4 separate regions of the Homo sapiens genome follow, and all the other regions are linked to region 4. Evidence: fine-mapped expression QTL. A gene starts in region 4. Each other region holds a variant in brackets. All regions are shown on one strand. Distances are between the middles of the regions. Region 1 has its middle 79 kb from the start of LMNB1. Region 2 overlaps LMNB1 (lamin B1). Region 3 overlaps LMNB1-DT (LMNB1 divergent transcript). Region 4 holds the start of LMNB1 (lamin B1).

Region 1 (7,654 bases), 78 kb after region 4:
AGTCACTTCTGAGTTTTCCATTGAGACCCGAACATGAAGAAAATCTTCTGGCTCCTGCCAGTTGGCCAACCTCTGTCTGCCTTCCCCAGCTCACAGGGCTGCACACTGCATTGGGGCTGTCCTCCGCTGCTGGAAAATCACGCCGGTGCTCTTCACAAACACTGAACACTGGCCCTCTGCTTGATCCATGGAACCAAGATGACAGGATCTCCTGCCTGTTCTTGATAACAGCTGTAGTTTTATTTCAGATTTTCATTTAAACAAATAGTTTAAGGCCTCAGCTGGGAAAGAGGATTGAAGTATCCCCAATGGACAAAGCCTCTGGCACGCCAGAAAGACATGTGACTAAGCCTGAGTGACTTTCCTTCCTTCCCCTCCCAGGTTGCTGGGAGAAATAACTATGGGTTTTTGACAACTCTTTCCCAAAATGAATAGTGGAAGGCTGGGAAACACTGAATTATGAAATAAAGCAAGGCAGTTCATTTTGTCATCCTTGGCACCTGAATCCTAAACTACGGTAATGAGATCAGCCCCTTAACGGAGTACTCCAGGGTACCTTGCTCTTAGGCAATTTGTTTTTCTGTGTGTGCTCTTCAACAGACTCTGCAGGAAGTGGCTGACTTGATGCAAATGACTTTTTTGTTTTGTTTTGTTTGAGACAGAGTCTCACTCTTGCCCAGGCTGTAGTGCTGTGGCACGATCTCAGCTCACTGCAATCTTCACCTCCTAGGCTCAAGAGATTCTCCTGCCTCAGCCTCCTGTAATCCCGGGATTACAGGTGTGTGCCACCACACCTGGCTAGTTTTTGTATTTTCAGTAGAGACGGGGTTTCACCATGTTGGCCAGGCTGGTCTTGAACTTCTGACCTGAAGTGATCCACCTGCTTCCGCCTCCCAAAGTGCTGGGATGACAGGCGTGAGCCACCGCGCCCAGCCTGATTTTGGAGGGTTATAGTTGGGAAACTATTTAGTGCGCAGATATTGTCTCTGTGGTAAACGAGGAAACTGACAGGATTCCAAAAGCCTGCTGTTTGAAGGGGCTCATTCAGTTCCAAAAAGAGATGGGAGAGGCAGGAAACGTGAACATATGTGCTGCCTGCCCTCCATTGGTTTGTTTAATAACAAATTCACCCTGTCTGGGCTTGTGACCCCCCTCTCATGTTTGGAAGCGCTACTGCGGGGTTGTAGAGACAAATGAGTCATTTTCTGAGCTCTAATCCTGACCCCAGAGGGGCATGTGGCCACTTCTCCCTGACTTTTCCCGGGGGTGACTTGCTTCCGACACCTGCCGCCTTACTGTTTTTCCTCCTCAAGCAAGCTTGTTGCAGGCACTTCTTCCTTACTTGGTGCTGAACTTAGCCACAAGGAGCTGTCATCACGAGTGTGGGAGAGGGAGGAGAGGGGATCACAGGGGTTTCAGAGGGCTCACTTTGAGACTTGCTGATACTGACAACAGAGTTGACCTGGCCCAGGATTCTTCTAATGCTGCGTGTGACTGTGTGTCTGTGCCATAGTTTTTCAGTGTGTATTCATGCATGATGTATGTGTGTGGGGTGTTGGGGGTGGGGGGAGGGCAAGAGCGTTATTTTCTGGGTCAGAATAACCTTTTAAAATGGTAAGTTTTCCGCTAGGAGAGGAAACCCATTTTGCTCATCTGTCTAGATGTTTTTCTTCACCTGGGCCATGGAGGGCTTTGTTTCACAAGCTTTTCTCCTGTTTCGTCGTTCAGGTGGCAGAGATCGTTGCTCCGCCCTGTGACACACAGCCCACCCTCCATGTCCCACGTTGGGATGGATTACAGAGGATGTGCCCTCCTAGTGGCCCCCGCCAGCCACCAGAGTGAAGTTGATGCTTGGGTGCTATTGTGTCGGAAATTGGTGGGTTCTTGGTCTCACTGCCTTCAAGAATGAAGCCACGGACCCTCGCGGTGAGTGTTACAGTTCTTAAAGATGGTGTGTCTGGAGTTTGTTCCTTCTGATGTTCGGACGTGTTCAGAGTTTCTTCTTTCTGGTGGGTTCGTGGTCTCGCTGGCTTCCGGACTGAAGCTGCAGACTTTCGCGGCAAATGGTTATAGCTCTTAAGGCTGCGCTCTTGGAGTTGTTCATTCCTCCCGGTGGGTTCGTGGTCTGGCTGGCCTCAGAAGTGAAGCTGCAGATCTTCGTGTTGGGTGTTACAGCTCATAAAGGCAGTACAGACCCAAAAAGCGAGCAGCAGCGAGATTTATTACAAAGAGCAAAAGAAAAAAAACCTCCGCGGCAGGAAAGAGGACCTCACCTGATTGCCACTACTGGTTCGGGCAGCCTGCTTTTATTCCCTTATATGGCCCCACCCACATCCTGCTGATTGGTCCATTTTACAGAGAGCTGTTTGGTCTGTTTTACAGAGAGCTGATTGGTCTGTTTTGACGGGGTGCTGATTGGTGTGCTTACAATCCCTGAGCCAGACACAAAAGTTCTCCAAGTCCCCACTAGATTAGCTAGACACAGAGCACTGATTGGTGCATTTACAAACCTTTAGCGAGACACAGAGTGCTGATTGGTGCATTTACAATCCTCTAGCTAGACATAAAAGATCTCCAAGTCCCCACCTGACTCAGGAGCCCAGCTGGCTTTGCCTAGTGGTTGCGGTGCCAGGGCTGCTGGGGGAGCTGCCCGCCAGTACCACACCGTGCGCCTGCACTCCTCAGGCCTTGGGTGGTTGATGGGACCTGGTGCCTCCTACCAGGGGGCGGCACCCGTCCGGGAGGCTCAGGCTGAGCGGGAGCCTAGTGCAGGGGCCGGGGGGGGGGGGGGGGGCGGGGGGTAGGGCATGGCTGCTTACAGGTCCCCAGCCCTGCCCGGCTGGGTGGCAGTGGAGGCCCGTCGAGAATTTGAGCATGGCACGGGCAGGCCGGCTGTGCTGGGGGACCTGGCGCCCCCCTCTGCAGCTGCTGGCCCAGGTGCTAAGCCCCTCACTGCCCCCGGGCTGGGGGCGCAGGCCGGCTGCTCGGAGTGCGGGGGCCTGCCGAGCCCACGCCCACCCGGAACTCACGCTGGCCTGCAAGTGTGCGCCCAACCCTGGTTCCCACCGGCGCCTCTCCCTCCACACCTCCCCACAAGCAGAGGGAGCCAGCTCCAGCCTCGGCCAGCCCAGAGTGGAGCTCCCACAGTGCAGCGGCAGGCTGAAGGGCTCCTCAAGCGCGGCCAGAGTGGGCGCGGAGGTCGAGGAGGCGCCAAGAGCGAGCGAGGGCTGCCAGCACGCTGTCACCTCTCACTATGAACAATTGGCAGGACAGTCATGGTCTGGACCTAAGGAAGGTTTGCTCAGGGCTGACCTACCCACGAGCAGCTGCTCCTGGCAGTCTGAGCGCCTTTCATATTTCCTGTATTAACCTTGTGGCGCACAAAGACAGCATCGAGAACAAGCTAATGAGAATCATCCCTCTCATCATGGAACCCGCATCCCCTGCCTCAAACCAAGCCATGTGCACA[C/T]GCACACTTGATGATAGCAGAATCGAGGCATCTGTTGACATTTGTCTTCTTTTTGTTTCTAGAGTGTGGTGGGATGCCTCCATCACTGTAGCACTGTCAGATGGGCGACAGCCTTATCGGCCGCCTCCAATCTCAGCAGGATGTGGGTTTTCTTTTTTAACGGGATGCTCTGAAGCCCTTTTGTCCGTGACCAAAAGCATCATTCTTGGCACTGAGCCTGAGGCCTCTTCTCTGACCTCTGCTTCCCTTCCCCTATCTACAATTACTGCACAGTCAGCCCATTGCCTTACTGTACTACTCTGATCATGTTTGATTTCATATACTTAACATCTCTATGTAAAATGACCAACCTTGAGCCTACAGCCTATGAGCTATAGGCTCCCTTCTGCTCAGCAACCAGTCCCTGCAGAGCAGTGAATTCTTTTAGAGAGAGCGTATATCAGGCAGCAGTGCCCAACTCTTTTTTTTTAAATACAAGTGATTTCACAAATGGAAAACTTAAACCTATATAAAACTGGAGAGTAGTATAATGAATACCATATACACATCACCTGAAGTCAACAATTACCTACATGTGGCCAATCTTATTTCATCCATACTTGCACCTTCTACTCTGTCATCTTTTGGATTATTTTAAAGTGAATCCCAGATATAGCATTAATAGCATGACTTTTTTTTTTTTAGTTTGTAATACAATTTTACTCTTCAGAATATACTAAAGATAATATTTACATATGCGCTGTATGTCACATAATATTCTATTTTCTCCTGTTCACTTTATTGAGGTATAACTGACAAAAATTTTATGTATTTATGATGTTAAATGTGATGTTTTGACATATGTATACATTGTGAAATGATTACATCAAGCTATCTTTCTTGTGGTGAAAACATTTAAGATCTACTTTTTTTTTTTTAGCAACTTTCAAGTACACAGTACATATTTTATTTTATTTTTTATTTTTGAGACAGAGTCTCACTCTTTCGCCCAGGCCAGACTGCAGTAGCGCTATCTCGGCTCACTGCAAGCTCCGCCTCCCGGGTTCACACCATTCTCCTGCCTCAGCCCCCGGAGTAGCTGGGACTACAGGCGCCCGCCACCACGCCTGGCTAATTTTTTGTATTTTTAGTGGAGACCGGGTTTCACTGTGTTAGCCAAGATGGTCTTGATCTCCTGACCTCGTGATCCGCCCACCTCGGCCTCGCAAAGTGCTGGGATTACAGGCGTGAGCCACCGCGCCCAGCCTATTTTATTTTATTTTATATTTTATTTTATGTTTGAGACAGAGTCTTGCTCTATTGCTGGTGTGCAGTGGTGAGATCTCCACTTTGAGACCAACCTGGGCAACATGGCAAAACCCAGTCTCTACACACATACACACACAAAATTAGTCAGGCTTGGTGTTGCACACCTGTAGTCCTAGCTACTTGGGAGGCTGAGGTAGGCAGATCACCTGAGCCCAGGAGATTGAGGCTACAGTGAGCTGTGATCTCACCACTGCACTCCAGCCTGGGCAACAAAGCAAGACCCTGTCTTAAAAAAAGAAAACAAAACAAAAAAAACAAAAACCACCCCAAAACAAGAAAACTGAAGTCCCTTGACTTTTGCAGACCATGGCCGAGACTGATTCTTAGTCCTTCTCATCTGGGATGAAGCAGATTTACTAACAAATGTTAGATTTTTTCCTCTTCCTCCTAAGAGCTCCCACAATGCAAAGATTCTGTGGAGCTGCAAAGGTTGACCCGGCCAGAGCTGCCCACGACCCTGGCGTACTGTCCAGAATGGTGCATGCTTCTGGGGAATCTCTCCTCACATAGCAGACCTCCTAACTCAGGACTGCTAATTTTGCTGTAAGATGTTGCCCACGAGGACTGAGTCCTGGGCCCTCACACAGACTCTAGAATAGAGCCACCAATACCCAGATGATAGAGTCTTAGATGGCTTCCCTAGACTCTCCTTATCTCACCTCCATGTCTGGGCCAGCTCAGCCTGGTCTCCCTGGGCTCCTAGTGGCTGAGAGGCCCTTATAGAGGCAAGCCTTGAGTGAGCAGGGCACCTATCATGTGGTGTCTTATGGACATGGCTGAGCCGTGGGCACCCTCAGCTGCCAAACCAGAGGCATCTAACAAAGTTTCAGCCCTGCAGTTACGAGGCAGGGGGAGTGACAAGGAAGGTCAATGATGGAGAAAACCCAGTGACATTTTATACATTAGCAAAGTTAATTGCCAAGTGCCCAAAAGCCTGTCTGAGTGTACTGTTTAAAGGCCAGGAAAACACGGTTCCAGTTCTTACATTGTAAAAGTAATGCAGCTGACCCTTTGCTGGTGATATCCCCACCGCAGGCCTTCTTGCCGCCTGCCTGGCCTCCCTGGCATTGGCTGCACTGGGACCGGTGTTCTGCAGATCTGCCCTCTTGGTGGCTTCCAGACATTCTCTCTCACAAATCTCAAGACTGACTTAAAAAAAATTCCTAACGTCAGCAGTCTTTAAGCCCCCTGAGAGTAAAACACAGTTCATATGTCTACTGAGCATTACTTATTTGCAGCTGGGTGAAAGTTACGGCTGCCTCCTTTCTGGCACTGGGGAAGGGATGAGAGCCAGGAATGCTGTGTGGGTGTCATTTTTATGTAAGACAGACCCGTGCGGTGCAGGCTTTTTCCTACCAAGCACTTCACTGCTTTTGGTAAACACAGAGTCCCCATGAACCAGGGAACCAGATGAGGCTACCTAGAATTTTAGAATAAAACAGGATTTAACAAATTTCAACATTATCATTTTTAAGAGCGCAATCCTTTTCTTTCCAGTGAAATCTAGCCCAGATCCCCACTCTATAAAGCAGAGAGAAACTGGCTGAATGGGGCCAAGGCACCAGAGCCAAGGTGATTGGTCTCTTTCCCATGGCCTGTCCCCATGGCAACTGCAGGATTCCAAGAAGGACTTTTGGAGAAGTGCTGATGGCATATAGTATGGCAAATTTACCCTGACTTTTGGCCCCCTTCCCCAATCACCCGTGCAAGCGCCAAATAAGTGAGATAATGGTTGGTGAGTCTGAGAAAAAAACCAAACCAAACAAAACAGGGAACACGGGGGCTACAGAAGGTGCGGGGGGAGAACAGGACACTACACCTAGGGGACAGGTATGGGCGGAGAGTAGCATCCTTGTCTCCCTCCTGTGAAATGCTTCTCCATGGAAGCATCACACCCCAGAAAACAACCAATAGCAATAGGTGGCTCCGGGGCAGCAGGGTAAGATTAGGGCTGCATTCTACCCACACGGGGGCAGGTGCATACAAAATACGTGCAGGCAGATCTGCCAACCGCATGGAATTTCCTCTTCCCCAGCCTTCTCCTCTTCAAAGGCGAGCTGACTGCAATTCAGGGAGATGGAACTTCCGCCAGGATGGAGGTATGTGGCGGTTCCCTGAGGGCACAGTCACATGCTAACTGTGGCAAATGGGGAGTGGCCGAGTCCAAACGGCAACCCCAGAGGATCTCCCACCCTCAGTGTGTGCCCCGCCCTCCCTGCTGACCCACCAGGGATTCAGCTCTTCTCACCCTGAATACTCACCACTAGCCAAGGTAGTCAAGATCCGCAGGAGAATATGAGATCACAGGGAAAATATAATGAGACATGAAAAAAGGTGGTAGTGGGCTGGGCACGGTGGCTCATGCTTGTAATCCCAGCACTTTGGGAGGCCGAGGCGGGAGGATCACTTGAAGTCAGGAGTTCGAGACCAGCCTGGCTACTGTGGTGAAACCCTGTCTCTACTAAAAATACAAAAATTAGCAGGGTGTGGTGGTGGCTGCCTGTAATCCCAGCTACTCTGGAGGCTGAGGCAGGAGAATTGCTGGAACCCAGGAGGCGGAGGTTGCGGTGAGCTGATTGTACCATTGCACTCCAGCCTGGGAAACAGAGTGAGACTCCATCTCATAAAAAAGAAAGAAAGAAAGAAAAAAGGTGGTAGAATTAACACCAACATGATAGTAAAATAAAAGTAAGTAGATTAAACTCATCAATCCCAAGACAAATATTTGCCAATTAAATTTTAAAAATAATATTTAACAGTATGTTGTCTATAGATGTAAGAGGTTATAGAAATGTTTATTAATTTTTTTCCATGGCCAGGCATGGTGGCTCATGCCTGTAATCCCAGCACTTTGGGAGGCCGAGGCAGGTGGATCGT
Region 2 (7,654 bases), 32 kb after region 4:
TTGGCCAGGGTGGTCTCGATCTCCTGACCTCGTGATCCGCCCACCTTGGCCTCCCAAAGTGCTGGGATTACAGGTGTGAGCCACCACATCCGGCCTCACTTCATCTTAACTTATAAAGGCTTGGTCACAGCAGCTAATTACTGTCAACATGTTTAAGCATTAGTTATCTATTCCTGCCTAACAAATTACTTCCAAAGTTCATCAACCTAAAACCACAGACTTGTATTAATTTCTTAGTTCCTGAAGGTCAGAATTCAGAGCTGCTAAACTGGGTGGTTCTGTTTCTTGGTCCCATGAGGTTGCAGTACAGCTTTTAACCTGGGCTGGAGGAATGGCATCTGAGCTCTTTCACAGGGCTGTGGGCAGGACGTGTCAGTTCCTCACCTCATGGTCTTCTTCATAGGGCTGCTCATGATATGGCCCCCCTAAGGGTCAGTGATGAGAAAGAGAGAGAGAGAGAGAAAGAAACACAACGAGAACATGAATACATGCTACCAGCTACCAAGGCAGAAGCCAGATTGTCTTCTATAACCTAATCACAGAGGTTACATACCATCACTTTGGCCTTCTCCTATGGCTCACATCTGGAAATGCGGCTACTCACAGCATTTATAGGCGTGTAAATTTTTTTTTTTTTGAGACACGAGACCCGCTCTGTCGCCCAGGCTGGAATGCAGTGGCATGATCTTGGCTCACTGCAACCTCTGCCTCCTGGGTTCAAGCTATTCTCCTGCCTTAGCCCCCCTAGTAGCTGGGACTACAGGCGCATGCACCCACGCCCTGCTAATTTTTTGTATTTTTAATAGAGACGAGGTTCCACCGTGTTAGCCAGGATGGTCTCAATCTCCTGACCTTGTGATTGGCCCGCCTCAGCCTCCCAAAGTGCTGGGATTACAGGCGTGAGCCACCGTGCCCGGCTCACTCATGTGGAAATCTTAAAATATCACTTATAAGCCTTAACTGCTGTGGTCAAGGGGCAGGGGCAAAACCGTTGTCAAACAAAGGAAGTAATAAAATTGAGGAAAGGGGAATGTATATTTCATGAAAATTGTAGAGGGTTGAAATCAACTCATGGGGGAGAACATGCTGTTAATGTGCTAGGCTTAATGTTTTTAGAAGTAGTGTAATTTTGAAAACAGTGCAAATAGGAATTCATTGTAGCAGTTAGCAAACCAGTTTTTTAGTTGGAGGAAAAATAATAGAAATCTGATTATTTTTTAAAATTACAGGCTTTAAACAAAATAGATATTAGTGCAAGGTGCACCAGACAAGCAGTCAGACCTTGGACAACTCTTAGTGTCAGTTTCTTATTTAAAATGAAATACTAATACTGCTATTTTTTTCTTCAATGAGTGGTAAGGATCAAAGTGGAATACTGTGTGTGAAAACTCTTTGGATACTGTAGCAAGTGCTGTCATATAATTGTTACTAAGTGTTGCTTTGTTAAAGCAGATATTTTGATATGAGGTTGACTTACATTTTTGTTTTGTTTTGTAAAAATTGTGATTTATCATTACTTATTTCTGATGTTGTGTGTAGACAACCAGGAGTAGGGTTTTTTTTCTTTGTAAGGTCACTGGTTCTATATAAAAAATAGCATCAGTAAAAAGTAATTTAATATTTTTAGAGTGCATAGCATCTTTGAATTTTTGGCCTTTGCCTTTTTGAGAATGGATGTTAAGATAGTCCTCTTCAGTTTTGTTTTTGTTTTTGTTTTTTTTAACTCTTTTTGGAGACAGAGTCCTGCTCTCTCGCCCAGGCTGGAGTGCAGTAGTACGATCTTGGCTCACTGCAACCTCCACCTCCTGGGTTCAAGCGATTCTTCTGCTTCAGCCTCTGGAGTAACTGGGTCTACAGGCATGTGCCACCATGCCCGGCTAAGTTTTGTATTTTTAGTAGAGACAGGGTTTCACCACATTGGCCAGGCTGGTCTCGAACTCCTGAACTCAAGTGCTCCATCTGCCTCGGCCTCCCAAAGTGCTGGGATTATAGTTGTGAGCCACCGCACCTGGCCTTTTTTACTTTAAAAAAAATTTTTTTGTGTGAGACAGAGTCTCACTCTGTTGCCCAGGCTGGTGTGCAGTGGTACGGTCTTGGCTCACTGCAACCTGTGCCTCCTGGATTCAAATGATTCTTGTGCCTCAGCCTCACGAGTAGCTGGGATTACAGGTTCACACCCTCACAACTGGCTAACTTTTTTTTTTTTTCCTTACTTTTTACTAAGTAATACCATGTTGGCCAGGCTGGTCTAAAACTCCTGGCCTCAGGTGAGCCACTCGCCTCAGCCTCCCAAAGTGCTGGGATTACAGGTGTGAGCCACTACGCTGGCCTTAACTTTTTTTTTTTACATTCATGATATATATTCAGTAATAATATCTAACTTCCTTATTATGAACAGTTGGGGGAAAAAAGGAAGGAGAAAGACGAAAGAGGAAGGAGGAGGTAGACAAAGAACAAACCATTAGCAGTCACTCTTCAGTATTTTTGTGATTTAGGTATTATTTGCTTCATGAAATAGATGTGATCTCTGGGAAGGTGATAGCAGAATCCTCCTGATTTTTCTGATTTTTCAGATTTTGTCAAGTGCATGCTCCTGTGTAGTAGTTAAGAGAAAGATGAAGAAATGCAAAGGAAAATACATGCGCTAATATACACAAACAGCAACTTTGGTGGGTTATACTTCCCTCTTGTGGCTTCTTCAGATATTACCATTCTAATTATTATTTTTTTTTTTTTGAGACGGAGTCCAGCTCAGCTGCCCAGGCTGGAATGCAGTGGTGCGATCTTGGCTCACTGCAACCACCGTCTCCCAGGTTCAAGTGATTCTCCCATCTCAGCCTCCTGAGTAGCTGGGATTACAGGCACCCTCCATCATGGCTGACTAATTTTTGTATTTTAGTAGAGACAGGGTTTTACCATATTGGCCAGGCTGGTCTTGAACTCCTCACCTCAGGTGATCTGATTGCCTTGGCCTCCCAAAGTGCTAGGATTACAGGCGTGAGCCACCGCGCCCAGCCTTCCATTCTAATTTTATTTAGACACTTCCTTAAAACAGAGTAAAGGAAAGGATCATGACAACTACTTCTATTCTTCAATGGTAAATTTTTCATAAATATTTGAGTTAGTCAACTAATATTGTTAATAAGATCCTGTGTCACTTGATAATGATAGCTTAATACCGGCTTTTAAAGAAGTCATGTAAATTAGCTTGTGCTGCCTATTATTATGTCTAAGAAAATGGTTTTATGGCTGGGCAAGGTGGTTCACACCTGTAATCCCAGCAACTTGAGTGGCTGAGGCAGATGGATCACCTGAGGTCAGGAGTTTGAGACCAGTCTGGCCAACATGGGGAAATCTCATCTCTACTAAAAATACAAAAATTAGCTGGGCATGGTGGTATGTGCCTGTAATCCCAGTTACTAGGGAGGCTGATGCAGGAGAATTGCTTGAACCCGGGAGGCGGAGGTTGTAGTGAGCTGAGATCATACCATTGCACAACAGCCTGGGCGACAGAGTGATACTCTATCTCAGAAAAGAAAAGAAAAGAAAAGAAAATAGTTTCATTTCACATAAATCTTTACATGAATTTATCACAACTGTTAAGTTTAACTTTCCATGTGCTGTTTTTTCAGAGATGTTCTTAAGATTATCAATGAAACAATTCAGAAAAATAATTTTTGCTTAGTGTTTAGTATAGTATACTGTGTATAAATCCTTGATTGCAGATAGTTTTAGTAGGCCATCCAGGCCTTTCCTTGGCTTCAGAAAAATAAATAGCTATGCTCCTGAAAAGGAATAGAAAGTTCCTAAGGCTTGAGATGCTACCACTTCTGTCATTAGTTCCATTTCAAAAACCTCAACTGAAAACTAAGAGGCAAAAAAGTGTTTATTCACATGACCGCCTGAGGACAAACAGGAGGA[A/G]GTTCGTGTGTAAAACTTCAGATGGCTGTGATGTCACTCAGATGTGTACCAATGCAGCCATGGTAAGTAGCTTGGCTTTATGCTTTTTGTTTTTTCCCCAGGAGATTAACGAGACCAGAAGGAAGCATGAAACGCGCTTGGTAGAGGTGGATTCTGGGCGTCAAATTGAGTATGAGTACAAGCTGGCGCAAGCCCTTCATGAGATGAGAGAGCAACATGATGCCCAAGTGAGGCTGTATAAGGAGGAGCTGGAGCAGACTTACCATGCCAAAGTGAGCTCTCTTCAGAAGATTCTTTTGAACACTTAAAATCATTACTTCACAATTCCCATGATGAACATGGCTTTATGTTTATTTTGTTCTAGTTTTTAAAAATGATTCCCCTAGTCTCCATGAAATATATAGAAAATTGATTTTTTCAAAAAAGTGCAGTTTTCTATAAACTAAATGTTATTAAAAATTACTAGAAGAATGTAGGGTTGTTGCAATTTTATTAGAGGTTAGGTTTTGTCTTTTTGTCCCATTGATCATTCGTACTATGCCATAGTAGTTGAACCCAAACCATGTGAAATAACTTTCTTCCAATAACAAGTACTGATCATGCTGTCCTACATAAACATCCATTTAGTAATGAATGAATGTCAGACTGCATTAGATCTCACTTTCATGTCATCATTGTGCATAGATTGTGACTACCACACTTCCGGCTTTTTTGCATAAGGGCCAAATGGAAAGTCTCTGCTATTTCTTCTTCTGTCACTATTATTCACTTAAAAAAATATTGTAGAAACTTCCCACTTATATTAGCTGACCTTACAAGAATTCATAAAAATCACCAACTAGTACAGGCTTTCCCTGGTAAATGATTTTGCCTTGTGTTTTAAATGTTACATGATTTGATTAAAAAGACTTTTTTGTGGTTGACTTAGAATATTAGAGTCACAGAGTTATTGAAAATTTTCATTGCATGGCTTTAAACTGTTCATGTTGCTTTTTATCTATTGTATGAAGTAGCAGTTAGTGAAAGTGAAAGATCTTATTATAAGCAGTAACTTCAGTTGTATAACATTTATCTAATATCACACATTGAGCTATACAGTGAAGGAGCTAAAGTAAGGATCCGTCACAGACTGTGGCCTCACAGGGAGCCAGGGAGGAGACACAGGAGCATGTCCCTGAGACACACATACACAATAGTGTTATGGGATTTGTATTTTACTCAAGGAGTTTTTTTTGCTTCTGAAAGGAAGTGTTTCTATCTGGTTTGAACGAATCTATAAACTAGTATTTTCTGCTTGTTGGTTTACATTCTGTATTGGATTTGGTGGGTTAGGGATATGTGATGTTTCTTTTCTTACAGACACCACCACAGTCAAGTTGCTATTGCCCAGTCTTCTTATTATCAGTGTTATCTTAGACATTAAAGGTTTAATAGATGAAATATTGAAGTAATAAGCTTTGGGTAAAGGCCTAGGTATATTAGCATTCTTAAAGCTCATTATTTAGGAAGTGACTCTAAAAGTCACACAGAATTACCATCATTCACACCATATCAGCAAACTTCATGATGCTTTTCCTGTGTTTCATCTACCAGTTACCAGCAGGACTTAGGTTTGAAATGCCTTGAGGTGAATCATGCTTCCTTTTTTGTTTCAGTTCTAGATAAGACTGACTATGCTTTGCTTCTTCTTTTAGCTTGAGAATGCCAGACTGTCATCAGAGATGAATACTTCTACTGTCAACAGTGCCAGGGAAGAACTGATGGAAAGCCGCATGAGAATTGAGAGCCTTTCATCCCAGCTTTCTAATCTACAGAAAGAGGTAAATAATCATCTTTCTGTAAGAAGTTAGACTTGAAGGCTACCTTCACCACGGGCACCTACCTGCTTTGCTTGGGCTGATGTCACTCCTCCCTCTGTTTGTTACAGAGGATGGTGTCATCCTGTGCTTTCGTCTTCACAGTACTTTTCTAGATTCGTTCATTTTGCATTGCATAAACATCCTGTGAGCAGATACTATTGTTCCTAATTAGTAGATTACACAGAGCTAAGGGACTTGCCCTTGAGGAAGGAGCCTGCTAGTTTATTCACTGTACTTACCCTAGGACCCGGATCTTCCGACCTGTCTAACAGCTTCATCTCTACAGAGTTATTCTCAACACCTTCCTTTTTTATATCATTTGAAAACCAAAATGAAGAAAAACATGCAAAAATTCTTTGTGGGTGGTGAATGCTTTGTGTTTCTAGACAAATTCTTTAGTGCTTAAAGTATATAACAATTAGGATCCAGGAAAGTAGCTTTAATTTGCATATTCCGATAAGAATTTAGTGACTCATTCATTCGTTGGTACGCCTAAGTGACAAATGGCATTATTGCCGGCTGTGTTGACTGGCTGCCTATCAGGGTGTGATGGTGTGCTTCAGGTGCTGCTTAAGCAGGCATGGACACTACTTCAGATCAGTTTTAGCCTAGGGTGATGTCAGTGTGGACACAAAGTACATATACTCCATATACTGCATTCAGAATGATTCAGCAATTAACTCGTCACCTTAATTATTTTGGAAATAACTTCCGCTTCTATTTTCCTCAAGGGAGGAAATCTTGTTTTGAATTTTCCACATGAGAATAAACTTTATTTTACTTTTTTTTTTTTTTTTTTTTTTTTCTTTTTGAGATGGAGTCTCACTCTGTCGCCCAGGCTGGAGTGCAGTGGTACGATCTCGGCTCACTGTGAGCTCCGCCTCCCGGGTTCACGCCATTCTCCTGCCTCAGCCTCCCAAGTAGCTGGGACTACAAGTGCGTGCCACCACGCCCGGCTAATTTTTGTATTTTTAGTAGAGACGGGGTTTCACCGTGTTAGCCAGGATGGTCTCGATCTCCTGACCTCATGATCCACCCGCCTCGGCTTCCCAGAGTGCTGGGATTACAGGCGTGAGCCACCGTGCCCAGCCTATTTTACTCTTGATTGGGCTTTTCTTCCTTCCTTTTTCTTTTTACCATTTTTAGTAAAATATTTTTCTAATTATAAAACTGATGACCTCTGTTGCAGGAACTTAGAAATAAAGCAGAAAATGAGTCCCATAAAATGGGGTGATATAAAATAATTTAGTTAACACAGGGGCTTTTACACTGTCTATCATGTGCTTTGTTACTTACGGCACAAATTTTTAAATTATTTTAAACCTATTTTGTGCTGATAGTGTTTTGAAGATTTTCATTTAATAGCAGAGCTGGAAGCACCTCTGAGTTCATTCCATGTAACCACAGATCTAGGTGAGTTTAATGATTTGCCCGTTGCCCAGAGGCTGCAGACTGATAAATGGGTTTCTCTACTCCTTCCCAGTTTTTCCTTTTATAACTCATTTTCTTCAAAGAAGATTTACTTTTAGAAATTTAACAGATAATCTTTTTTTCCATTGCACCATCTGTCTTAGTCCTTTTGGGCTGCTATAACAAACTACTATTGACTTGGTAGCTTATAAACAACAGATATGTCAGAAATTATTTCTCACAGTTTTGGAGGCTGGGAAGTCCAAGATCAAGGCACTGGCAGATTGGATATCTGCCTGGTGAGGGCTGTTCCCCGATTTATAGATGGTGCCTTCTTGCTGTGTCCTCACATGGTTAAAGGGTGAATGAGCACCCTTGGCCCTATATTATAAGGGCATGAATCCCATTCACTAGGGCTTTCCTCTCATGATCTAATTACCACTCAAAGGCCCTACCTCTTAATA
Region 3 (7,654 bases), 23 kb before region 4:
TAAGCTCACCTCTTTCCCATGATTCTTCCCTTAGGGTGGGCTGCCCGCCTGCACAGTGCCCTCCTTACCCTTTGGAATTGAGCACAGCGCAGTGTGTTTAGGGAGTCATAAGCATGCCTATCTGAGGCTTTCTTCCTTTTGCCGGTGGAGTTTACCTGGAAGATCATAATTCGCCATTTTTGCCTCTTAATATGCATGCCCAGGAAGTTTCTTCTCCCTGAGGCTTGCATTCAATTAACATTTCATATTAACAGGTGTGGACCCTCAGGAAATGCCTTTTCCCTGGCGCTGCCGAATTATCGCACTCGGAGAGGCAATGCCGTAATTGCTGATAGGCTTAGTGGGTGGGGGAGAGCCCTCTCCTGTCTGGCTCCTGCCTATCCAACTACCTGTAGGTAACAATAAGACTCACTCACTGAACTTAACGAAAAAACCTCTAAGAGATGTTTGAAATTTGCATTTAGACCAGGAAATGTGTGGTCTTATAAGACATCCTCACAAAAACGTAGGACTAGGAGTTCTCTTAAGATCGTCTAACAATTATTTGAGTGATAAAGAACACTAGGCCAGGCCCAGTGACTCATGCTTGTAATCCCAGCACTTTGGGAGACCGAGGCGGGCAGATAATCTGAGGCCAGGAGTTCGAGACCAACCTGGTCCAACATGGTGAAACCCTGTGGCAGGCACATGTAATCCCAGCTACTGGAGAGGTTGAGGCAAGATAATTGCTTGAACTCGGGAGTTGGAGGTTGCAGTGAGCCGAGATCAAGCCACTGCACTCCAGCCTGGGCAACAGAGCGAGACTCCATCTCAAAAAAAAAAAAAAAAAAAAAAAAGGCCGGGCGCAGTGGCTCACACCTATAATCCCAGCACTTTGAGAGGCTCAAGGCAGGCGGATCACGAGGTCAGGAGTTCAAGACAATCCTGGCCAACATAGTGAAACCCTGTCTCTGCTAAAAATACAAAAATTATCTGGGCGTGGTGGCACGTGCCTGTAATCCCAGCTACTTGGGAGGCTGAGGCAGGAGAATCACTTGAACCAGGAAGTCGGAGGTTGCAGTGAGCCAAGATCGTGCTGCATCACTCCAGCCTGCCGGCAGAGCAAGACTCCGTCTCAAAAAAAAAAAACCAAAAAAAAAAACAAAACACTAATTGAGAGAGTAGAAGTCAATGAAAGGATGTTCTAGTTAGCTACAGGTTGGAACTCTAACCCAAATCACCATTTGCATTCTTAATATGCCCCCAGTTTCAGGCGATTTCTTTTTGGGCACACCAGAGATCAGACAAATGCCATAATGCCTACTCTGCCCCAAATGGGGATTTTCAGGTATAGCAAGTGTAAATATAGCTTTTTCCAGAAGAAGCGGGGTTGGGTGGGAGGGGAAAATCACACAATTAATTTTCATGATAGAGATCCCAAGAAAGAAAGTGGAGGTGCTTACTGTGATTTCAGTTTAATTAGAAACACATCCTGAATGTTAAGACAAAACCAAAAGTGTTGGTTTCATTTGAACTTGAGAAGAATTGGAGACTATAGACTTAATTATGTTTCCCATCCCCATAGTAAACAATAAACACCTATTATGTTCTTCCAGAGTTAACCAAGTCTATGAGCCAATGTAATCAGTCCAATGAATGTGTTAGAATAGATACTACACATTTTGTGGGTGCTACTGCAGCTTGTATGTGTTGGCAGCAGTTCCGCTTTATTTCCTGCTGATTTTTTTTTTTTTTTGTACCTTCACTGCCATATAATGATTTAGGACTTTTGCTTCCTGAGGTCAGTGAGAACATTCATATCTGATACTTAACTCCAGAAGAAGATTCTTGTTTAGTTATGAGAAAGTGAATGGCTTTAGTGATGATTCGCAGAAATCTCCCAAGTGATGATGGAATTCTGAAAGGAAGTATAACGTATTTTTACTTAAAAACAAAAAAACAAAAAACAAAAAAACCCCACAAAAACTACCCAGGACAAAAAAAAAAAACATTTAAGTTAACAGACCTCATATTTCCCCCAGAGTCCTTAAGTGATTTTCTAAAACATTGTGTTAACTTACCTTCAAATAATTTAAAACACATCAGCTTTAAGAAAATGTGGCACATATACACCATGGAATACTATGCAGCCATAAAAAATGATGAGTTCATGTCCTTTGTAGGGACATGAATGAAATTGGAAATCATCATTCTCAGTAAACTATCGCAAGGACAAAAAACCAAACACCGCATGTTCTCACTCATAGGTGGGAATTGAACAGTGAGAACACATGGACACAGGAAGGGGAACATCACACTCTGGGGACTGTTGTGGGGTGGGGGGAGGGGGGAGGGATAGCATTAGGAGATACACCTAATGCTAAATGACGAGTTAATGGGTGCAGCGCACCAGCATGGCACATGTATACATATGTAACTAACGTGCACGTTGTGCACATGTACCCTAAAACTTAAAGTGTAATAATTAAAAAACAAACAAACAAAAAAAACACATCAGCTGTAGCTGTTTGGAGTTCTTGTACTTCAGAAAGGACAGTGGGAAGTGGCAGATGACCGTATGATCTTTATTTTACCATAAGCCAGAAATTCTGTGTTAGCACTGAAATAATATCATATTAAATATTTGTGCTGTATTATATTAAATTAAATATTCTCTGGTCACAAGGGACTAAAAACTAAAACAGCTTAAGCAAAAAACAAAAACACAAGGGGGTAGAGGCACTACTAGAATACCAGAGCAACCCTGAATCCGAGGAAGAGTGGGAGACCAGGCCTCAAGGGGACAGAAGCCAGGGCACATCTGGAGAACTCTGTGAGCATGCACTCATGCAGAGACCTTCTCCTTAGAGTGCTGCCTCAAGCGCTTCTTCATCAAAATGTCTACTTCCTGGAAAAGAGAAGCTAATTGCTCCTTCTTTGCTCGGGGTCACCTCTGGGCCAGTGAGCGATGATAATATGATAGGATAGAACCACACAGCAGAAACAAGGCTGAGAAGCATCCACTCCTGAGGACACATCAGGAGATTCTCAGAGAGCACTGGGGGCAGTGCATTGCCAACCACACATAGACTTTAATGTTATAATCATGTATTACAGCTAAAGGCAAGTTTTGCTTATTTTCTATATACAGTGATCATCACATTAACTGACATGCTCTTTCCTAACATTCTATTATTCAGCCTTAAAAAAAAAATTAGGCTGGACATGGTGGCTCACACCTGTAATCCCAGCACTTTGGGAGGCTGAGGCAGGGCAGATCGCAAGATCAGGAGATCGAGACCATCCTGGAGAACATGGCGAAACCCCATCTCTACTAAAAATACAAAAAAATTAGCCAGGTGTGGTGGCGGGCACCTGTAGTCCCAGCTACTCGGGAGGCTGAGGCAGGAGAATGGCGTGAACCCGGGAGGCGGAGCTTGCAGTGAGCCGAGATCGTGCCACTGCACTCCAGCCTGGGCGACAGAAAGAGACTCCGTCTCAAAAAAAAAAAAAAAAAAAATTAATTAAGGCTGGGTGCTGTGGGAGGCTGAGGTGGGCAGATCACCTGAGGTCGGGAGTTGGAGACCAGCCTGACTTACGTGGAGAAACCCCATCTCTACTAAAAATACAAAATTAGCTGGGCACAGTGGCACATCTGTAATCCCAGCTACTTGGGAGGCTGAGGCAGGAGAATCGCTTGAACCCAGGAGGCGGAAGTTGCAGTGAGCTGAGATTGCACCATTGCACTCCAGCCTGGGCAACAAGAGCAAAACTCCAACTCAAAATAAATAAATAAATAAAACACAAAAATTAGCTGGGCGTGGTGCATGCCTGTTATAGCAGCTACTTGGGAGGCTGAGGCGGGAGAATCTCTTGAACCTGGGAGGCAGAGGTTGCAGTGATCCAAGATCACTCCACTGCACTCCAGCCTGGGCAACAGAGCCAGACTCTGTCTCAAAAAAATAAAAGCGAAAACAGCTTTGTTGAGACATAACTCACATATTATAAAATTTATCTACTTAAAGTGTATAGTTCAATGGGTTTTGGTATATAAAATTATTAATTTTTAAAAATTGTGAAAAATAAAAATTATGGTAAAATATATGCAACAAAACTTGCCATCTTCACC[G/A]TTTTTAAGTGTACAATTCAGTGCCACTACTTACATTTATGATGTTGTGCAACCATTAGCACTATTTCCAAACTTTTTCATCACACCAAACAAAACACTTAAGAATATTGCTCTATTATAACTAGGCCTTTTTTTTTTTTTTTTTTTTTTTTGAGATGGGATCTCGCTGTGTCACTCAGGCTGGAGTGCAATGGTGCAATCATGGCTTCAAGGCTCACTGCAGCCTCGACCTCCCAGGGTCAAGCCATCCTCCAACTTACCTCAGCCTCAGCTGGAAGTACAGGTGAAAGTCATCACGCCTGGCTAATTTTTATATTTATTTTTATTTTTCTAGAGAGAAGGCCTTGATATATGTCCAGGCTGTATTTTCTTCCCCCTTTTTTTTTTTTTTCCGAGACGGAGTCTCGCTCTGTAGCCAGGCTGGAATGCAGTGGCACAATCTCGGCTCACTGCATCCTCCGCCTCCTGGGTTCAAACGATTCTCCTGCCTCGGCCTCCTGAGTAGCTGGGACTACAGGTGTGAGCCATCACGCCCAGCTAATTTTTGTATTTTTAGTAGAGATGGGGCTTCACAATGTTGGCCAGGATGGTCTCGATCTCTTGACCTCATGATCCGCCCACTTCGGCCTCTCAAAGTGCTGGGATTACAAGCATGAGCCACTGCGCCCGGCCTCCAGTTTTTTTTTTTTAATGGAAGCTTCACAGATTTGCATTATACTTGCACAGGGACCATGCTAATCTCTGTATCATTCCAATTTTAGTGTATGTACAGCCAAAGGGAGCACTATAATTAGGCTTAGACTAAAAGAGTTTTGTTTGTAAAAGAGGTTGTTTAATATCATCATCCTCTGCACATGGCTTTCCACCCCAGGTGTTCTTACAACCGCGTGCCTGAGCTTGGTACCTGAGCTGACAGCCACAGCCTTGCGGTGACTCCTGGCATGACCTGCAGGCTCCATTCTGCTCTGCTCCTCTCCACACCCAAAGAATGCAAGGCTGGAGCTCCTTTCTCTTCTGGAGACCTCAGGGACAGAGGAAATGGCAGCAGGCACATTGGCCAGAGGCCTTCAGATACAAGCCCTGCATTTTGCAAAAGAGTTTTGGGGCCTAGACCTCGATAAAGGGATGAGGTTTCCCTTCACTATTTCCCAACTGCCAGTGAAAGCCACCTCTCCCCCCGGGGCCCCTTCTCTCTCCTGCCGCCCCTCCCACCTGTCCTCTGCAGCCTCCCCACTCCCCCGTGTGTCCTCCTGGACACACCTCCCTGGCTTACACTAAGGAAAAATATACACATAAATTAATGATCTTATCTTCAATTAGATGTCTTTTGTGAGTAGTATACAGCTTATAAGAAACTATATTTCGTGCCCTGGTTCCTCTCTCTTTTTAATTCTTTTTTTTTTTTTTTTGAGACGGAGTCTTGCTCTGTCGCCCAGGCTGGAGTGCAGTGGCACCATCTCGGCTCACTACAAGCTCAGCCTCCCGGGTTCACGCCATTCTCCTGCCTCAGCCTCCCGAGTAGCTGGGACTACAGGCATCCGCCACCACACCCGGCTAATTTTTTGTATTTTTAGTGGAGACGGGGTTTCACCGTGTTAGCCAGGATGGTCTGGATCTGCTGACCTCGTGATCCGCCTGTCTCGGCCTCCCAAAGTGCTGGGATTACAGGCGTGAGCCACCGCACCCAGCCTCTCTTTTTTTATTCTAAGTCACTATTCCAGAGGCTCTGTGTCCCTTAGGGTTCTTTAGAATCAGTAACAGAAGTTGATTCTGGCATAAGCAGAAAAGGACAGTACTGAAAACATTTTGGGTAGCTCACAGAATCACGGGAGGGCAAGAAGTCCAAGGTCAAAGGAGGCTACATACCGGGGTCCCAGGATGTGTCTGAGCAGGTCATTGCTGCTGCCAAGAAGGAGGAGAGTCTACAGCTGCCACACTCACCAGCACGTAGGATCGTGCTGTCGTCCCCGCTGCCTTTTTTTTTTTTTTTTTTTCCAGAAATGGAGTCTTGCTCTGTCACCCAGGCTGGAGTGCAGTGGTGTGATCTCCACTCACTGCAACTTGGGCCTCACAGGTTCAAGCAATTCTCGTGATTTAGCCTCCCAAGTAGCTGGGATTACAGGCGTGCACCACCAAGTCTAGCTAATTTTTGTACTTTTAGTAGAGACATGGTTTCACCATATTGGCTGGGCTGGTCTCGAACTCCTGACCTCAAGTGACTTGCTCACCTTGGCCTCCCAAAGTTTTAGGATTACAGGCGTGAGCCACAGCATCCAGCCCTGACTGCCTTTTGAAACTGGGTGTGGCTACCAGAATGGATGCGCCTTTCTTCCATTGCTTTGACTGACTGGCTCCAAAGTCAAAATTCTGGAGCTAGGCATGGTGGCTCACACCTGTAATCCTAGCACTCTGGGAGGCCGAGGCAGCTGGATTGCTTGAACTCAGGAGTTTGAGGCCAGCCTGGGCAACATTTTTTGTCTCTACGAAAAAATAGCTGGATGTGGTGGTGCGGAGGTTGCAGTGAGCCAACATCATGCCACTGCACTTTCCTGCCTGGGCGACAGAGCGAGATCCTGTATAAAAAAAAAAATCTGGAGCTGGTACACCTGATTGGCGACACCTAGGCCTGCAAAAGAAATAGTTGGCTGACATGGGTGGATGGCTTTTTAGCATCTAGAGTGGGAGCAGGACCCTGTTTCTTACTAAGACTCAAATGGTGAGGAATTCCTCAAACGTAGGAAGACAGTTCAGAGGGTGAGCAACCAAAAAATTTGCAAATGTCTCCTGTAGGTAGGAAGCATCTGGTGTTCTGTTCAGATCTGGGTCACAGCATTATTTCATCTAACTTAGAAAACTATTCTAAACTAAAGTTGGTTTGCTTCCCTTTCCTTCTGTTATTAAAAAGATACACTTGGACAATTTATTCTACCAAGTTATTATAGCGAGGTAAAAATTCTGGCATCAAAACCCCATAGTTTTTTATAGTTTGTCTTCTTTTCCAAGTTTACATTGTTGCTTTTGAATACAACTGTGGAGCAAGTCTTTTCATAGTAAGCTTAGCTACAGCTTATCTCTAAGATTCTAATCGGATTCATATTCTAAGCCAATATTTACAGTTTTGAAATTTTCAAAGTTTATTTTCTATTTTCCTATTGCCTTTCCTTTTTTAAGCTGGCACTGTTAAGTTTTTAAAAGTGAGTGGCTTGTATTACTACAAGTTAGAAAAAGAGAAGAAAGAAGTCAGAACAAGAAAGAAGTATAGGGAAAAAACAATGTGTTTTTTTAAAAAAACTGAATCCTAGGTTAGCAAGAGATTTTTTTTTTTTTTTTTTTTTTTTTTAGTGAAACAAACATCAGTTTGTCCAGATAGCATTATTTCTCAGGCAAATAGGAGAATCATATTTCTTGTCTGGTGATAGCTAGTCTATATTTGTTTACTCATTAGAAAGTTCGCTGCTTATTCTGTGAAATCTCAAAATCTTAGTCTGCTTTGCTGATGTCCTATTTATTCTACATCTCTTTAATGAGTGAGGGATTTGAGCTGTC
Region 4 (7,654 bases):
AATTGAGGAACTCTATCAATAGAAAGCTTCAGGCCGGGCGTGGTGGCTCACGCCTACGATCCCAGCATTTTGGGAGGCTGAGGCTGGTGGATCACGAGGTCAGGAGTTGGAGACCAGCCCGACCAACATGATGAAACCTCGTCTCTACTAAAAATACAAAATTAGCCCGGTGTGGTGGCGCAGGCCTGTAATCCCAGCTACTCGGGAGGCTGAGGTAGGAGAATCGCTTGAACCCTCCAGGAGGTAGGAGATGGAGGTTGTGGTGAGCTGACATCGCGCCACTGCACTCCAGCTTGGGCAAGAAGAACGAAACTCTGTCTCAAAAAAAAAACAAAAACAAAAACAAAAAACAAAGCTTCATGGGGTTGAGAGCAATAGAGATCATTGCTGGAATCACATATAATCTTAAAACTTAAAAAATGGACAGGAAATAATTTTAAAAGAAAACTGACAATTTTTTTTTTTTTTTTTTGAGACGGAGTCTCGCTCTGTCGCCAGGCTGGAGTGCAGTGGCGCGATCTCGGCTCACGACAACCTCCGCTTCCCGGGTTCAAGCCATTCGCCTGCCTCAGCCTCTCGAGTAGCTGGGACTACAGGCACGTGCCACCACGCCCAGCTATTTTTTTTTTTTTTTTTTTTTGTAGTTTTAGTAGAGACGGGGTTTCACTATGTTGGCCAGGATGGTCTCCATCTCTTGACCTCGTGATCCGCCCGCCTCGGCCTCCCAACCAAGTATTTTTAAAAGACAGGTAAAGGGGAGCAAGGAATGAAAACCATAAAACCATATGGATTGACTATATCACCTGTCGTAGTGGAAAGGGTCTCACAACCAAGTGAGAACAAGCAGATTTACATTCCAATCCTGGTTCCACAGCCTGGGACCCAGCACTCACCTTCTTTTGGTCTAATTTCCTCATCGGTAATTTATTTTATTTAACTTTAAAAAATTTTTTTTATTTTTTTGCAGATAGGGTCTTGCTTTGACGCCTAGGCAGTGTCGCAATCTCAGCTCACTGCAACCTCTGCCTCTGAGGTTCAAGCGATTCTCCTGCCTCCTGCCTCAGCCTCCGGAGTAGCTGGGACTACAGGCGCGCGCCACCACACCCCGCTAATTTTTGTATTTTCAGTAGAGGCGGGGTTTCACTATGTTGACAGGCTGGTCTGGAACTCCCGACCTCAAGTGATCTGCCCACCTCGGCCTCCCAAAGTGCTGGGATTACAGGCTGAGCCACCACACCCGGCCGGTTTTCTCATCAGTAATTTAGATTTTAAAGTTCCCTTTAAGATTACTTGAATACTTAAAGTCTAAGCTTTTCGATTCTTTATTTCTCAATGAGGTTAAGAAAGGAAGTATTTCATGGCCAGGCGCGGTGGCTCACGCCTGTAATTCTAGCACTTTGGGAGGCCGAGGCGGGCGGATTGCCTGAGATCAGGAGTTCGAGGCCAGCCTGGGCAACACGGTGAAGCCCAGTCTCTACTAAAATACAAAAAATTAGCCGGGTATGGTGGCGTTGGTCCCAGCTACTCAGGAGGCTGAGGCAGGAGAATCGCTTGAACCCGGGAGGTGGAAGTTGCAGTGAGCTGAGATTGTGCCATTGCACTCCAGCCTGGGCGACAGAGCAAGACTCCGTCTCCCTGCCATCCTCCCCCCCACCCCCCCACCCCCCAAAAAGCAAGGAAGTATTTTAGGAAACCGGACAGGAAATAGAACCATTAATAAGGAGAATGTCATCATTCACAGAGTGCCAAAAATTCATCTGGGATGAATATGCAGCTCCCAGTGCTCTTCACTAATTCTTATGTACATGACTTGATTAACAGTTAAAGAATATCCTGGTCTCCATTTCTGCCATTTTAAAAGTAAGTAACCATTAATTACAGAAGCGTTCCTAATAGGTGGTAAGGTGGTCATCTAGGGTATAGCTAAGGGCCAGACTCGAGTCAATTAGAATCCTGGGACCTGTCAAACGCAGTCCTGCGGAGCAGCCTTCAGACAGTGAATCTATAAAATGGATGGTTTCTTTCTTTCTTTTTTGAGACGGGGTCTCCCTGTCACCCAGGCTGGAGTGTAATGGTGCCATCTCGGCTCACTGCAACTTCCCCTTTCCGGGTTCAAGGGATTCTCCCACCTCAGCCTTCCAAGTAGCTGAGATTACAGGCACCCGCCATCATGCCCGGCTAATTTTTGTATTTTTGTAGAGACGGGGTTTCACCATGTTGGTCAGGCTGGTCTTGAACTCCTGAGCTCAGGTGATCCTCCCCCACTCGGCCTCCCAAAGTGTTGGGATTATAGGCGTGAGCCACCGCGCCCGCCCGGATGAATTTTCAAATAGAAACAATCCAGTTTCCCACATCACACGGAGATTGTGTGGATGGGTAATCCATGAAAAGCCTGGTGCTGGCACTCAGTCCCAATAAATGTTAGCTAAAAATTAGGAACTTTTCAAAGGGATGAATGTGCTTTCTAATAGAAGTAGCTGCCAGTGACATCTTGGGAGCCTCTTTTTAAAAGCAAAAAATTATTTCATCTTAAATTTTCACAAGTTCAGATTTTTATGTACCTGATTTTAACGGAGTATGAAACAGCTTGCTCTCGTAGTTACTCACCGTCATATGTTAATCGTATCATTTCTGAGCTGTTTTTTGATTTTACAAACCCTTAAATTAAGAAACGGATTAGGAACCGCCCATTAACACTGTTGGCAAATGATTTAAAATCAGGGTTGCTGGTTTTTCTGTGATAATCTATCGGCTTCAAGACGCACAGATCTCACTTTCATGGAAAGAAGTTGCCTGATACAGTTTTCCACCGGAGAGAAAAATAAAGGCTGGTACTTGGAACCTGCAAGCCGTGCATTTGGAACCTCGGACTCAAGTGCCTATTACGTAATTCCACAGCGTCCCGGCCTCCAGGCCGTTTCCCGAGCCCTCCAGCGGAGCGGGGGATAAGGTTACCACGCCCGCGGTGGCCGGGGACACTCTGAGTTTCGCGTGTGGCTTTTAGGGACGTTTATATTTGAATTTCCCTGAACCGCCGAGTGTGGGCGGTGGCGCAGATCCGTCCCGGAAACCTCCGGGCTCCTTCCCGCCTTTCTCAGGCCCGGCCCCTCCAAGGGGTCCCCGCGGGGCGGCGGGAGGGCCCTGGGCCCAGAGCCGCGCGGGTGGGCAGTCCCAGGCGTCCTTCCTTACAGCCCTGAGCCTGGTCCGGGAACCGCCCAGCCGGGAGGGCCGAGCTGACGGTTGCCCAAGGGCCAGATTTTAAATTTACAGGCCCGGCCCCCGAACCGCCGAAGCGCGCTGCCTGCTCCCCATTGGCCCATGGTAGTCACGTGGAGGCGCCGGGGCGTGCCGGCCATGTTGGGGAGTGCGGCGCCGCGGCCCGCGCCACCTCCGCCCCCCGCGGCTTGCCTCCAGCCCGCCCCTCCCGGCCCTCCTCCCCCCGCCCGCCGCTCCGTGCAGCCTGAGAGGAAACAAAGTGCTGCGAGCAGGAGACGGCGGCGGCGCGAACCCTGCTGGGCCTCCAGTCACCCTCGTCTTGCATTTTCCCGCGTGCGTGTGTGAGTGGGTGTGTGTGTTTTCTTACAAAGGGTATTTCGCGATCGATCGATTGATTCGTAGTTCCCCCCCGCGCGCCTTTGCCCTTTGTGCTGTAATCGAGCTCCCGCCATCCCAGGTGCTTCTCCGTTCCTCTAAACGCCAGCGTCTGGACGTGAGCGCAGGTCGCCGGTTTGTGCCTTCGGTCCCCGCTTCGCCCCCTGCCGTCCCCTCCTTATCACGGTCCCGCTCGCGGCCTCGCCGCCCCGCTGTCTCCGCCGCCCGCCATGGCGACTGCGACCCCCGTGCCGCCGCGGATGGGCAGCCGCGCTGGCGGCCCCACCACGCCGCTGAGCCCCACGCGCCTGTCGCGGCTCCAGGAGAAGGAGGAGCTGCGCGAGCTCAATGACCGGCTGGCGGTGTACATCGACAAGGTGCGCAGCCTGGAGACGGAGAACAGCGCGCTGCAGCTGCAGGTGACGGAGCGCGAGGAGGTGCGCGGCCGTGAGCTCACCGGCCTCAAGGCGCTCTACGAGACCGAGCTGGCCGACGCGCGACGCGCGCTCGACGACACGGCCCGCGAGCGCGCCAAGCTGCAGATCGAGCTGGGCAAGTGCAAGGCGGAACACGACCAGCTGCTCCTCAAGTGAGTGCTAGCTGGCGGCCGCGTTAGCGCCAAGGAGGGGCGGGGGCGCAACCGCGGCGACCAGCTCACCGGGTTCTGCCGTGGGGAGGGAGCAGAGGCCAGGATGCACGCGTCCTTCTGAAGGAACAGGGTCTCGGTCTCCGGAAAGGAGAAAGAATCTAGAGTTCATAGCGGAGCAGGGGTCGCGGAGGGGGCTCGAGCTGTAGCGCTGGGGGGCCGTGATGCCCATTTCTAGATTTTGGATACCCGCTGGGACGTGGTAAGTGCGCGCCTGGGACTGCCGAGAAGGAGCTCCCGCTTTCGCACTCGAATCCGGGGAGCCGGCGCGGAGAGGCGGCCCCTCAGGCCCCAGGTGCGGGGAGCTGGAGCGCGAGCGCGCGCTCGCGTGCGCGCCCCAGTTTCCGGCCGGCGCGAGACAAAGCGTCTAGCGGATTTGCAGTGCCGGGATGGGCGGCCGGGGAGGACTGGCAGCCCGCCTCTAGAATGAATGAGCTTCGCGCGGGCAGAGAGAGGAAGGGGAGGGACCTTCCCGCAGCATCCGCGTCTCCTGGGGGTGGGTCCCGCTTTGGCGCGCTCAGTCTTGGCCCTGTGACGTTTTGCGAAGATTCTACGCCTGCTTTAGGCGGGAGAGAGAGGCGGAGCTTGATCCGTGCGCCTCCAGCCAGCCCCGGGCAAGTTAGGTTTGCTAGCTGGTTAGCTTTCTCTGGGGAAATGTGTCCTGTCCCAGCGGGGATGGTGCGGTCCCTCGGGTGGTTCTGCGCAGGGAAGGAAAGCTGGGTTTGTGCATGTCACGGCTACCGTTCTTAGAATTGCGGTTCTCCTACCCCTCAGGCAGCGGCCCTCTGTCCCCAGCTTTTGCCTCCTCGTAGTATAGTCAGGCTTTCGGGTAGAGACTGTGCTTAGTACCCCTTAGTCGACCACTGTGCAGATAGTAGACCAGGGCAGGTGACAGGGTGCTGTGTAAATGCTGAGTGTTTGAGCGAAGGAGAGTTTGTAATTCACCTAAGCGAGTGCGAGTTTTCATTCCAGTGCACAAGGATACATTTGCAGACCTTTGCTGGCCTTATTTTGACTTTCTGATAAGCAAAATGGCCTGTCATCAGTAGGCAACAAGTGTTGATGTCATGCTTTAGAGATTTGCAAAATTTGGGTCTGAAATTCATGGTCGCCATTAGCACTGCCAGCTGAAATTTCTGGAGGTACCTTATTCTCACTTTGACACCCTTTGCCCCTGGATGTCTTTCTGTCTGTATCTGCGTGAATGTCCCTGTCCGAAGTCTCTGAGATTTTGTGTATTTTTACTTATCCCTCCTATCATATGTTTTCGGTTCATAAAAAAGCATGTGCACGTGGTAAGAATAAAATAGTATAGACTGGTTTGTAGCGAAAAACGATAACTGCACTACCTCTTTCCGGAGGCAATCACATTTATCCCTTTTTGTTTTTATTTCTTTGGATATTTAGTTATACAACTCGAAAATAATACTAAGCTTGTATTTCCCTTTCTTGGATTTACTAAGCCTTGGTTTCATCTTTTAAAATGAGCAGTCAGTTAACTCACACTATTATTTCTATGTTCCTCCAAATTTTTTGCCACTGAATTCCTTCAAATCTTAGATATCGTTGCTTGTAAGACTTGCCATTATTATGTGTACCACTAAGAAAATAAAAACATCAGGACCAACTGTGTAGGATCCATCCTGTTGGACCCATCATGATGGGTTTCATAGATATTAAAATGTCAAACAGGGCCGGGCGTGGTGGCTCACGCCTGTAATCCCAGCGCTTTGGGAGGCGAGGTGAGCGGATCACTTGAGGTCAGGAGTTCGAGACCAGCCTGACCAATATGGTGAAACCCCGTCTCTACTAAAAATACAAAAATTGGCCGGACGCGGGGGCTCACGCCTGTAATCCCAGCACTTTGGGAGGCCGAGGCGGGCGGATCACGAGGTCAGGAGATCGAGGCCATCCTGGCTAACAAGGTGAAACCCCGTCTCTACTAAAAATACAAAAAATTATCCAGACGTGGTGGCATGCATCTGTAGTCTCAGCTACTTGGGAGGCTGAGGCAGGAGAATCGCTTGAACCCAGGAGGCGGATATTGCAGTGAGCTGAGATTGCGCCATTGCACCCCAGCCTGGCGACAGAGTGAGACCCCATCTCAAAAAAGAAAAAAAATCCGGGCGTGGTGGCGGGCGTCTGTAATCCCAGCTACTGGGGAGGCTGAGGCAGGAGAATCGCTTGATATCCAGGAGGCAGAGGCTGCAGTGAGCCAGATGGTCCACTGCACTCCAGCCTGGGTGACAGAGTGAGACTCCGTCTAAAAAAAAAAATTAACACAGATCAAATATCTGTTGCGTACCAGTCACCGTTCTATGTTAGAGGATATGAAGATTTTTTTAAAAAAATGAATTACTGTTCTTTGTTGCTGAGAGTGTAGTGGGGGAGCTATATCCCAGCAAGTAAAGAAAGATTGTCTTTTGTCTGATGTGAAGCATTTTGATGCTGGCGCTTTTGTAATCTTTCCAGGAGTTAGCCACAGGAGGTTTTTCACACAGTAACAAGGCTGCCACCTGGCTGACAGTAGTTGTAAATGTATCGATTCTAAAATGCATGCTGGTTTCAGCGGGGTTAAAAAATGAGAATAATGTGTATTAGAATCAATGAAATAATGCATGTGATACAATTTAGGTAATAGCAGATGCTAAGGGAATAAAAATAAAGCGGAGTGAAGGGTTAGTGTGATTAAGGAAGGCCTGTCTGAGGAGTTGACAGTACCTATTCTCTGAGGGTTAGTAGTGTTCTGGGATTATATTTTTCTTAAGTCTGTGCTACTGTATGTATATTCCTATTGCCAGGATTAGATGACTCTTCTTTTCCCCCCAACATACCATCATTTGCTCAAAACATGCCACATTTTAGTTTGCTCCTTATTTGAATTAGGACTTTTTTTATATGGATTTATTCCTCAATAGCTTTTCATTTTTCTTGTTAAGAAAAATTTGCCCTCAGTGTGTTTGCAGACTTTTTGAAGATATTTAATCATAATATCTATCACATGAATCTGCTTTCTTCCCTAGAGTTCTCTTTGCTTAAGGTAGGCTGTGTACTGATGTCCTGTAACTTATTAAAGACAGCTTCCTGGCCAGGCACGGTGGCTCACACCTGTAAAGCACTTTGAGAGGCCTAGGCAGGTGGATCACCTGAAGTCAGGAGTTCAAGACTAGCCTGTCCAACATGGCGAGACCCCGTCTCTACTAAAAATACACAAATTAGCCGCGTGTGGTAGTGGACGCCTGCAATCCCAGTTACTGTGGAGGCTGAGGCAGGAGGCATTGCTTGAACCGGGGAGGCGGAGGTTGCAGTGAGCTGAGATCACACCACCGCACTCCATCCTGGGTGTATTTTCCTTTTCCTTGGTTTCTTCATATTTTGTTGAAGAACATCCTTAAGTAATTTATTCAGAAAGGATGG

What was found. PIP is the estimated chance that this variant, and not a neighbour inherited with it, causes the effect.
Region 1: its variant is fine-mapped to the expression of LMNB1 in whole blood (INTERVAL, PIP 0.98).
Region 2: its variant is fine-mapped to the expression of LMNB1 in whole blood (TOPMed, PIP above 0.99).
Region 3: its variant is fine-mapped to the expression of LMNB1 in whole blood (INTERVAL, PIP above 0.99).

Annotation. Positions count from the first base shown.
Region 1 is chr5:126,851,834-126,859,487 of GRCh38, forward strand. No RefSeq gene overlaps it. Among named protein-coding and RNA genes, the nearest start is that of LMNB1, 79 kb to the left of the region's middle. The variant C/T (reference allele first, on the strand shown) is at 3,470.
Region 2 is chr5:126,806,158-126,813,811 of GRCh38, forward strand. LMNB1 (lamin B1) reads left to right here. Exons shown (of 11, transcript NM_005573.4): 4 at 4,023-4,193; 5 at 5,616-5,741. Among named protein-coding and RNA genes, the nearest start is that of LMNB1, 33 kb to the left of the region's middle. The variant A/G (reference allele first, on the strand shown) is at 3,922.
Region 3 is chr5:126,750,525-126,758,178 of GRCh38, forward strand. It overlaps LMNB1-DT (LMNB1 divergent transcript), which reads right to left. Exons shown (of 4, transcript NR_134485.1): 3 at 5,013-5,188; 4 at 1,439-1,897. It also overlaps the pseudogene RNU6-752P. Among named protein-coding and RNA genes, the nearest start is that of LMNB1-DT, 22 kb to the right of the region's middle. RefSeq lists a silencer at 3,716-3,882. The variant G/A (reference allele first, on the strand shown) is at 4,109.
Region 4 is chr5:126,773,688-126,781,341 of GRCh38, forward strand. It overlaps LMNB1 (lamin B1), which reads left to right and starts at 3,449. Exons shown (of 11, transcript NM_005573.4): 1 at 3,449-4,180. The coding sequence starts at 3,822. LMNB1-DT (LMNB1 divergent transcript) reads right to left here and starts at 2,799. Exons shown (of 4, transcript NR_134485.1): 1 at 2,608-2,799. RefSeq lists silencers at 2,226-2,275, 2,926-3,575, 3,776-3,855, 4,166-4,215, 4,426-4,535 and enhancers at 3,210-4,010, 5,026-5,115, 6,419-6,488, 6,499-6,588.